Linked DNA regions of Homo sapiens: region 2 is linked to region 1. The links come from fine-mapping of genetic effects on gene expression. Tissue or cell type: skeletal muscle. Region 1 holds a variant in brackets; the other region holds the start of a gene. All regions are shown on one strand. Distances are from middle to middle.

The links. PIP is the estimated chance that this variant, and not a neighbour inherited with it, causes the effect.
Region 2: it holds the start of HRCT1, and the variant in region 1 is fine-mapped to the expression of HRCT1 in skeletal muscle (FUSION, PIP 0.95).

Annotation. Positions count from the first base shown.
Region 1 is chr9:35,778,887-35,784,114 of GRCh38, forward strand. It overlaps a transcript of RGP1 not described here. Among named protein-coding and RNA genes, the nearest start is that of NPR2, 10 kb to the right of the region's middle. The variant GT/G (reference allele first, on the strand shown) is at 3,097.
Region 2 is chr9:35,903,547-35,908,774 of GRCh38, forward strand. It overlaps HRCT1 (histidine rich carboxyl terminus 1), which reads left to right and starts at 2,656. Exons shown (of 1, transcript NM_001039792.2): 1 at 2,656-3,590. The coding sequence starts at 2,742. The coding sequence ends at 3,089. It overlaps LOC124902149 (a long non-coding RNA gene), which reads right to left and starts at 2,124. Exons shown (of 3, transcript XR_007061471.1): 1 at 822-2,124. RefSeq lists an enhancer at 1,322-2,203.

The sequences.
Region 1 (5,228 bases):
TCTATCTCCAGTCTATCTCTGTCTTCTTTATTCTGCCTGAACTTTCAAACTCCTGGTTCCTTCTGTCACTCAAAAGATGACTTTGCTTCCCCATTGAGGAATGCAGTTGAGCTCCTTATTTCATATAACCTTCCCTTCATTTCAATATATTATAGAGGATGTTGAGTAAGGTTTTTTTCTATTGCCCTGGAATTGGTGACTAGGGTCCAAAGCTGGGACAAAGAGGACTAAATACTGCACGTTCTAGAGAGAGTTGCTAATAATTGGATCAGAGCTCCTCTCCAGGGCTTACAAAGAGGTAGCAGAAGTGGCCCTGCAACTTCCAGCCAACCCATACCTTACCACCCCACCTCCATTCCCAGGCTATATAAGATAAAAGATGACTGAAGGGAGGCTGTCATGAGCCTAGCAGGGAGTACTTTTCCCTCCTTTCCCCCCTTAAAGTAAGCAAGGGAGTATGAAAGAGATCTACATGAAAGAGAGATTGATTTCTCATTCCTTGGTTAAACTATCTGTTTAGACAGTGGATTTGTTCAGCTCCGCACCTGTCTGAGAAGAGGAAAGGCAATTAGAGAAAGGAGGAAGGGCAGAGTAAGGGGATAGTAGTGGAATAGTCTGCATTCATTCTGTTTGGCTTAGCAAGGGTATGTGAGTTTCTGTGATCAAAGGGACACTGAGGAAGATCGCCGGGCTTGAGCCATCATGCTGGTAACCCATCCAAAAGGCTGCCACTGAACAGAAGTTAGGAGGGTTAAAGAGATGGCTTGGATCAGGATTCTCTGCATTAGGGCACAACTCAGTGGAGAAGCCCAGTAGGACCTTCTAAAGAACTCACATAACTGTCTCATAAGAGAGCCAGCATCTTTTTTTTTAAGATGGGGTCTGTTGCCTAGGCTGGGGTATAGTGTTGTGATCATGGCTTATTGCAGCCTGAATCTCTTGGGCACAAGTGATCCTCCTGCCTCAGCCTTCTGAGTATCTGGGACTGCAGGTTATGTGCCACCACACTCGGCTAATTAAAAAAAAATTTTCTTAGAGACAGGGTCTCTCTACGTTGCCCAGGCTGGTCTCAAACTCCTGGGCTCAAGTGATCCTCCTGCCTCAGCCTTCCAATGCCTTGGGCTTACAGGCATGAGCCACCATGTGCAAGAAAGATAGCATTTTGACATCTGCCAAACAACAGGTTGGCATGGTCTGTCAGCAAACAGTGGTTTGTGATAACTACCTTGTTAAATAAAAAGAGAGTTGTTCTTTTCCTCCCTGCCCTCCTCCTAGTTCTCAACCACCAAGGAGCTAAAACCCTTCTAGAGAACCTTCCAGAGAACTAGAAGAGGAGAAGCAGAATCAATAGAAGGGATCATATTCTTCTCTCCACCGCAGGTTCCTTAAGCCATGGCTTAAGATGAGTTCTGCATTGGACCTGAGACTGGAGTTTTAAGCCATATCGGACTGAGTCTTTAAATAACCAAAAGGGAGCAGAGTGTTATGGACTCTGACCATGATGTTGTGAAGAGGTACAAAGGAGACATTTGTCATGGCACAGATGAAGACTGATGGGTGGCAGGTTATGTTTATACCTGACCAAGCTCAATGCTCAACAGATAAGTTAAATTTATCCGTCACGAAATCTATCCCTGAATCCATTGTTCCACCTTTCCCTGCAGTCTCAGAGGAATTTCTTTTTCTTTTAAAGTGAATCCCTGGCTGGGCACGGTGGCTCACACCTGTGATCCCAGCACTTTGGGAGGATGAGGAGGGTGGATCACTTGAGCTCAGCAGTTTGAGATCAGCCTGGGCAACATGGTGAAACTCCATCTCTACCAAAAATACAAAACAAACAAACAAACAAACAAAAAACAACCAGGCGTGGTGGTGTGCATCTGTGGTCCCAGCTATTTGGGAGGCTGAAGTGGGAGGATTGATTGAGTCTCGGGGGATGGAGGTTGCAGTGAGCCAAGATGGCGCCACTGCACTCCAGCCTGGGTAACAGAGTGAGACTCTGTCTCAAAATATGACCAAATAAATAAAAATAAAGTGAATCCCTTCATCCATACTCATATATCCATTGAGAAAACATTTATTTGAATTCTAAAATATACTGCCAATGTAAGGTACAAAGATTAAGGACGATAAAATTCCTTCTCATGGAATACACAATCTAATGGGGCAGAAAGTACCTACTTTAAAACAAATGTATTAAATTAAATTGAAAAGTGGCCTGAGTAAGCCTCAAAAAAGACTAATTAGAACTCAAGGGAAGAGAAAACATTTCAGGCTGACAGAAAACCCATGGGCATAGAATAACATGACCCACTTAGAGGACTATAGATAGCTCTATATGTTTAGAAGGCATATGTGGCTGCAGAGGAGGCTGGAGAGGAAGATGGAGCCAGGACCACCTGGTGGACTGAGATTCTTGTTCTCCATCCTGCAGGCTAGTGGCTCTGAACAGCAGTAGTACTTTTCCTGGAGGGGCATTTTGGTCCGTGGTGGGTGCGCAGGAGATAGTGGGGGTGGGGGGAGGGGGTGGGGGGGCAGGCAGGAGGGGGTGGAGGGGAAGGGGCATTTTCTTGGTTGCTATAGTGATGAGAGTGGGTGCTACTGGCATTGTAGTAGTTGGAGGCCGCAGATGTTAGACTCTGCAATGTGAGGACAGTTCCACATAATTAAGAATGTATTCCATGAGAGAAGGAATTTCACCTTGTTTTGGTTGTTAATCCTTGTACCTTGACACTGGCAATACCTTTTAGGTGTCAAATAAATGTCCTGAATTCGGCATGATTTAGATATCCTGAGTTCTGCACAGTCTTCAAATATTCCACCAAACAGTTGTGTAGGGTGTTATATATAAATATATATATAAATACATCTGTTCTGTTATTGCTTATCCTAACACTGGTGTTTAATCCAGTATCTTTCTTTATGGAGTGGCTTCAGATCTCTTAAATCAAAATTTATTCATTCCCTGTAATTAGATGGAAGCATCTAATTACAATTAGCTGAGTGCCTCCTTTGGTGTTCTATCACAGTTATATCCAACCATTTACATATTGAAATACCTGTTTTTAAAATAAGTTATTGTCTTTTATTTCTCTC[GT/G]TTTTTTTTTTTTTTTTTTTTGAGATAGAGTCTCACTCTGTTGCCCAGGCTGGAGTGCAGTGGTGTGATCTCGGCTCACTGCAACCTCCCCCTCCCGGGTTCCAGGGATTCTTGTGCCTCAGCCTCCAGAGTAGCTGAGATTACAGGCGCCTGCCACTATGCCCGGCTATTATTTCTCTTCTATATTACAGGTAGGAAATTTTATTGATGTTTTGAAATTATGTGTAGAGATAGGTTGTATTATCTATGCATTTTATTTTAAGTTAGTAAAGGTGCCGTTAGAAAATAATTATTAGAAGGAAGATTTAGGTTTGGTAGCATCAAGAGTCATTGTTTAGTCACTGATTTTCAAAGTGTTATTTTGAGCTGCAGAGCTCAAATATTTTTGTTCATGAGCTCCTTAAAATAAAACACTCACACAATTTTAAATTGAAATCTAACTTTATTATTACAAGGTTTTTTGTTTTTGTTTTTGTTTTTTGAGACGGAGTCTCGCTCTGTTGCCCAGGCTGGAGTGCAGTGGCACGACCTCGGCTCACTGCAATCTCCGCCTCCTGGAATCAAATGATTCTCCTGCTCAGTCTCCCAAGTAGCTGGGATCACAGGCGCGTGCCATCGCGCCTGGCTAATTTTTGCATTTTTAGTAGAGACGGGGTTTCTCCATGTTGGTCAGGCTGGTCTCAAACTCCTGACCTCAGGTGATCCACCCTCCTTGGCCTCCCAAAGTGCTGGAATTACAGGTGTGAGCCACCACGCCAGGCCAGATAAAACAGACTTTTAACTATTTTATTGAATAAAGTACACCAACTATGAAATAAGTTACTTAATTTTTTTTTTTTTTTGAGACTGAGTTTTGCTCTTGTTGCCCAGGCTGGAGTGCAATGGTGTGATCTCGGCTCACTGCAACCTCCCCCTCCCCGGTTCAAGCGATTCTCGTGTCTCAGCCTCCCAAGTAGCTGGGATTACAGGCATGTGCCACCATTCCTGGCTAATTTTTGTATTATTAGTAGAGACGAGATTTCTCCATGTTGGTCGGGCTGGTCTCTAACTCCCAACCTCAGGTAATCCACCCACCTCGGCCTCCCAAAGTGCTGGGATTACAGGCGTGAGCCACTGCGCCTGGCCCTTAATTTTTTTATTCATTTATTCATTTATTCAACGTAGCTGAAGTATTTTTCTGCTTGTAAAACTTTTCAGTTTAATTTTCTCTTTTTATTTTATTTTTAATTGACAATAATTATACATACTTATGAAATACAATGTGATGGATACATGTATAGTGTGTAATTATCAAATTAAGACAATTAGTATCTCAAAAATTTATCATTTCTTTGTGGTAAGAACATTCAAAATCCTCTCTTCTAGCTATTTTGAAAAATACAATAATATTGTTAACCAAAGTCACCCTACTGTGCAAGGGAACACTGGAACTTACTCCTCCTGTCTATCTGTAACTTTGTTGGCCCACCTCACCCCATCTACCCCTCCTGCCTATGCTTCCCAACCTCTGGTAACAATTATTCTACTCTGTACTTCTAAGAGATCAGTTTTTGTTTTTTTTTTTAGATTCCACATATGAGTGAGATCCTGTGGTATAATGTCCTCCAGGCTCATCTATGCTGCTGCAAATGACAGGAATTCATTCTTTTTTATGGCTGAATAGTATTCCACTGTGTAAATATACCACATTATCTTTATCATTCATCTGTTGATGGACACTTGGGTTGATTCCATATCTTGGCTACTGTGAATAGAGCTGCAATAAACATGGAAGTGCAGACATTTCTTCAACATACTGATTTCATTTCCTTTGCATAAATACCCACTAGTGGGATTACTGGATAATATGGTAGTTCTATTTTTAATTTTTTGAGAAACCTCTATACTGTTTTTCATTATGGCGATACTAATTTATGTTCCCACTAGTATAAAAGTTCTCCTTTCTCCGCATCCTCATGAGCGTTTGTTAATTTTTGTCTTTTTGATAATAGCCATTCCAACTGGGATGAGATGATATCTCATTGAGGTTTTGATTTGCATTTCCCTGATGATTAGTGATATTGAGCATTTTTTCATATACCTGTTGGCCATTTGTATGTCTTCTTTTGAGAAATGTCTATTTTGCCCATTT
Region 2 (5,228 bases), 120 kb after region 1:
ACAGTGTCCTTAAAGTTATCAGTCTTGCAAACCCTCATGTACAGTATACAGTCAAGCCTCCAAGAAGGTCTCTGTCACTTCTTTTTTTTTTTTTTTTTTTTTGAGACTGGGTCTTGCTGTGTTGCCCAGGCTGGAGCACAATGGTGTGATCTCAGTCCACTGCAGTCTCAACTTCCCAGGCTCAAGCAACCCTCCTGCCTCAGCCTCCTGAATAGCTGGGATTATAGACATGTGCCACCATGCTCAGCTAATCTTTTGTATTTTTTATAGAGGCAGGGTTTCGCCATGTTGCCCAGGCTGGTTTTGAACTCCTGGGCTCAAATGATCCACCCCTCTTAGCCTCCCAAAATGCTGTGATTACAGGCTACTGCACCTGGCTGTGTCACTTCTTAACATTTATGCCTAGTGTTCCATTATTGGAACACTAAGCATGTGGGAGTTATTTTTATCATACTGATCAAGGTCATTGCCAAGGTCTGATTGCAAAAATTCAAAAAATTGCAACCTTAGGCATAAATGGGTTAAGTCATGGAGGACTGTATTCTCAATGGCTGTCCCTCACTGCCCCCAGGAGTGCCCAAAGCATCTAAACAAATGTTCACTTTGGGATCCTACTACCCAGATGGAGAGTGAACCTGCACCTAAGGAAACAGATGTCGTGTGTATGTGTATGTGTGAGGGGGCACTCCCAACCCCTGCGCCCTCCAGGTTTATTCACATCTCCACCTCATCTTCCCGCTGTCTCTGTGGAAGGCCCTGCTGATCTCAGGCTGTCACTCTGGACGGCTCCCTCACTGCAGGGATGGTGCTCTGTTGAGTACCTGCTGTATAGATTAGCGCACGAGGCTGGGAGAACTTAGGCAAGTGTTTCCCTTCTCTGGCTTCAGTTTCTCCATCTGTCAGTGAAGGCTGAGTCTGGGTGATTCCAAGGGGCCGTTTGAGCTGACTGAAGTTCTTCAAGTTCATAGTTGTAAGGTCCTGCCCCGCCGCCAGCGGCTGGTGTGGGGTGGGAGTCTTCCTGGAGAAGTTCTGAGGACGAAAATCCCCTGTTTGCCTTCCTCCTCCTCCTCCTCACAACAGACTTCCCTCCTTAACTTCCCTAGGGAAGGCAGCCGGGCTCCCAGGGCCCCAGGAGTCTGCAGGAGGAGTTCTTACTCCAGCATCATTAAAAGTTCAAGTAGCTCCCCCAAGGGCCAAAGAAGTGCCAGGATTCATTAGACCTGCTGCCCCCTGAGCCCAGTTTGGTTGAAGGGAATGTTTAGCCTTTTCATCTGGTGAGGGTTTTCATTAAGGGTTTGAGGCCTCCCTAAGAGAACTCACCTCAGACTGAGGTCAGAGGGGGAAGGGTCCCTGGAGGTCACCTCTTGCTCCGGGAGTTCTGCAGAGGAGACAGGCTGGATCAGGGCAAGGGGTTTGCCCAACATCACAGGGTGGAGGTGCTGCCAGAACTCAGAGAACCAGCCTTGCGGTGTCTGCAGACATTCCTCCAGGCGGTAGGGAGATGAGCCTGGAGGGAGGGGCTGGGGACTCAGCCTGGAGGGACCCTGCAGAGCCAGACACAGAGCTGGGGCTTTGGGGAGCCCCACTGCATGTGAGGAAGAGCTTGGAGAACAGCCCAGCATGCCCACAGCAGAAAGGGTTGCCCAGAGAGAGAGTGAGCACCTGTTGCTGAGGTCTGTCAGCAGGATGGGACGGTGCCTCCCAGGAGGAACAGAGGGGATTTGGGCCTGGCGGGTGGGCTTGGAGGGACAGTCAGTACTGCTCAGATCCTGCCGCTCTGTAAATGCTCCACTAGGCAGGAATGGCACTCATCACTGCTGGGCAGGGAGGGTGTGACAGAGCAAGGAGCATGCCATTTATGGCCAGTTGAGACTGTTGAACTGGGAACCAGGAGGCTGGGCTGTGCCTGCCCTCTCTGAGCTCAGTGGCCTCCTTCTTGCCTCCCAGCAAGCTTGGGAGGACACCCAGACCCTCCTGCCTCCCAGAACAGGCCGGATGGAGGACCTCCCTGGATGGCAAAATCTGCCTGTGGTGCCTCCCTGAGCTTCTCAAGCTCATTGAGCTCGGGATGGCTCATCTGACAGAGCCTGACTCAGCCCCGGAGGGCTCTGCAGGCTGCAGGACAGGGAATCACAGACTCTCAGATGTCAGTGTCTCCTGAGCCATGGAGTCCATTGCAGTAATATCAGTTGCAAACATGACGGGAGCTGGTGTTGCTGCTTTACGCATCTCAACTCCTTTAGTCCTCGGAACACCCTACTGAGGAAGGAACCGTTATCAGCCATTTTACAGAAGAGGAAACAGGACAGAGAGGTTAAGTAACTTGTGCACAATCTCAGAGCAAGTGAGTGGCGTGGCTCCAAAGCCCGTGTTGTTCATCTCTGTTCTACACAGTCTCTACGAGAGGAGACTGAAGTGCGGAGAGGGAAGGTCACTGAGCCAGGCAGCAGGAGGGTTTCTTTCCTCTAGACTCAGGGCTCCTCCCTCAACCAGATCCAGCCTGACAGCTCCTCTGTCTCCACCTGGCCTCCCTGCCAGGCCTCCTCAGAGTTAACAGCGGCCTGGCCTCACCCTTGGCCAGCAGTTGCAAGTCCAAACAGGCTTCGCCCACATTCCCTGGCTGCTCTCCAGCCCGCAGCAGAGACAACAAAGTTCAGTGACTGAGAGGGCTGAGCGGAGGCTGCTGAAGGGGAGAAAGGAGTGAGGAGCTGCTGGGCAGAGAGGGACTGTCCGGCTCCCAGATGCTGGGCCTCCTGGGGAGCACAGCCCTCGTGGGATGGATCACAGGTGCTGCTGTGGCGGTCCTGCTGCTGCTGCTGCTGCTGGCCACCTGCCTTTTCCACGGACGGCAGGACTGTGACGTGGAGAGGAACCGTACAGCTGCAGGGGGAAACCGAGTCCGCCGGGCCCAGCCTTGGCCCTTCCGGCGGCGGGGCCACCTGGGAATCTTTCACCATCACCGTCATCCTGGCCACGTATCTCATGTGCCGAATGTGGGCCTCCACCACCACCACCACCCCCGCCACACCCCTCACCACCTCCACCACCACCACCACCCCCACCGCCACCATCCCCGCCACGCTCGCTGAGGCTGCTGTCGCCGGTGCCTGTGGACAGCAGCTGCCCCTGCCCTCCCATCTGTTCCCAGGACAAGTGGACCCCATGTTTCCATGTGGAAGGATGCATCTCTGGGGTGAACGAGGGGAACAATAGACTGGGGCTTGCTCCAGCTGCATTTGCATGGCATGCCCCAGTGTACTATGGCAGCAGAGAATGGAGGAACACTGGGTCTGCAGTGCTGAAGGGTTTGGGGAGTGGAGAGCAAGGGTGCTCTTTCGGGGCTGGACAGCCCGTCTTGTGACAGTGACTCCCAGTGAGCCCCAGAAATGACAAGCGTGTCTTGGCAGAGCCAGCACACAAGTGGATGTGAAGTGCCCGTCTTGACCTCCTCATCAGGCTGCTGCAGGCCTCTGGCGGGCAGGGCACTGGGAGAGGCCCTGAGAATGTCCTTTTGGTTTGGAGAAGGCAGTGTGAGGCTGCACAGTCAATTCATCGGTGCCTTAGTCCAAGAAAATAAAAACCACTAAGAAGCTTTTGTGAAGAGGCTCTTGATTGCAGCATAGTGGGAGGGAGGGAGCTGCCTGGCCTGTGTCCTCATTGCCCTGGGACCTCCCTCTCTGATGGGAAGCGTGTGGCTGGAGCAGGCGGCTTCTGTCTGGTTCTTAGGGGCTGGTTGTGGAGTGGGAAGAATTGGGTGGGCTCTGTCTGAGCTCTGAGGGAGGATTCAGGGTTTGCACAAAACCCTGCCCACAGCAGGTCCTGTGTGCACCAGCAGGGCTCTGGCCTTCCGCGGGACAGTCCTCGGGGAGAGGAAGGTTGGAGCCGCTGCGAGCCTGGCTCCCCAGGGCTCTGCCCCTGTACTTTTTTCAGCCCATGTCCAGGGCAGACTGAGCTCTGAAACTCGAGGAAGCCCCATCCACAGGCTGCCTTGAATCCAGTTTCCTTGGTAATTGGATCAGGGTTTCTTCTCCAAGCCTTGCGTTTTCAGCCATCCTGCCCCAGCTGGTGCCTGTGTGTGGTGGGAGGGCTGGGAGGCAGCGAGTGGAGTTCTTTAAAGTGGAGGCTGTGGTGCTGGGGTGCAGGGTGTTGGATGGCCTTGGGAGAATGCTGGGGTCTCACTTTCCTCTTCTCTGCAATGGGGTGGATAACAGAGATGCCCACGTGCCGAAGCCTGGAGGCTCGTTGGAATATGCTCTGTGAACAGCTAGTGGGATCCACAGCGAGGAAGGAAGCCTGGCTCTGAGGCCTTCAGCCTGTGCCTGTGAGCTGAGGTGGGAATTGGGGGAAGACAAGGACTGGGGGCCAGGAGAGGCAGTGGGGAGGGGCTGGAGAGCAGGCCAGAGACTCAGGGACCTGGTGACTCACTGGAATAGAATGTCCTCTTTCCTTTCTATTTCCCAGTGGATTCTCTGTGAGGGCTGCAGGAGGAGGGAGTGAGAGAGAGAGGGAGGCAAATTCACACTGATTTCTCCCACCTGAGGTTTCTGGGTTGGGAAAGTTGACCCTAGGCTGCCGTGCAGTGTCGATTTTCTCTGCAGTGTCCTTCAAATCCACCCCCTTCTCCATTCCCATGCCCTGCCTAGCCCAGCCCCCTCCATCCCCCTCCTGGATTCCTGCCAGCCTGCTCCCTGCAGCCCTGCCCCTTTCCCAGGCATCTCCAGGCTGATTTCACAGATGAATCAAAGATGGGGAGGAGGTTCCCCGAAAGCAGGAAACGGAAAAGGAAGCCTATGCAGGGCAGGAGAGAACCCGCTGAGCAATTGCCCTTTATTCCAGTTCAAAAATGCGGAACCACTCAGACAATCTGCAGGCGGCCTATGGCTGCGTGTACACAGGAAGAATAGGCGATGAGAAATCAAAGGAACAAATGTTAAAGCTTGAGGCATAGTCTCCTGGTGCCCTCTATCACCCCAGTTAAGGAGGTGATGTTGGTAACTCAACCTGAAACCACAGGCCCTGCAGATCAGCCCGTCGTCTCCTTCCTCCTGGTCATCCCAGTTAATACAAACAATCCAAGGAATTGGCTTCCTGTCATGGCCCACAGCCTGCTCCATGTGGAGGAGGAGCCCAGGGCCCAGATGGTCTCATCATCTCAGAAAAGGGACAGATTGAGAATATGACAGGCTATCGTTTGCTCTGAAAAGTTGCTCTCCCATTCTGTGCAAAGT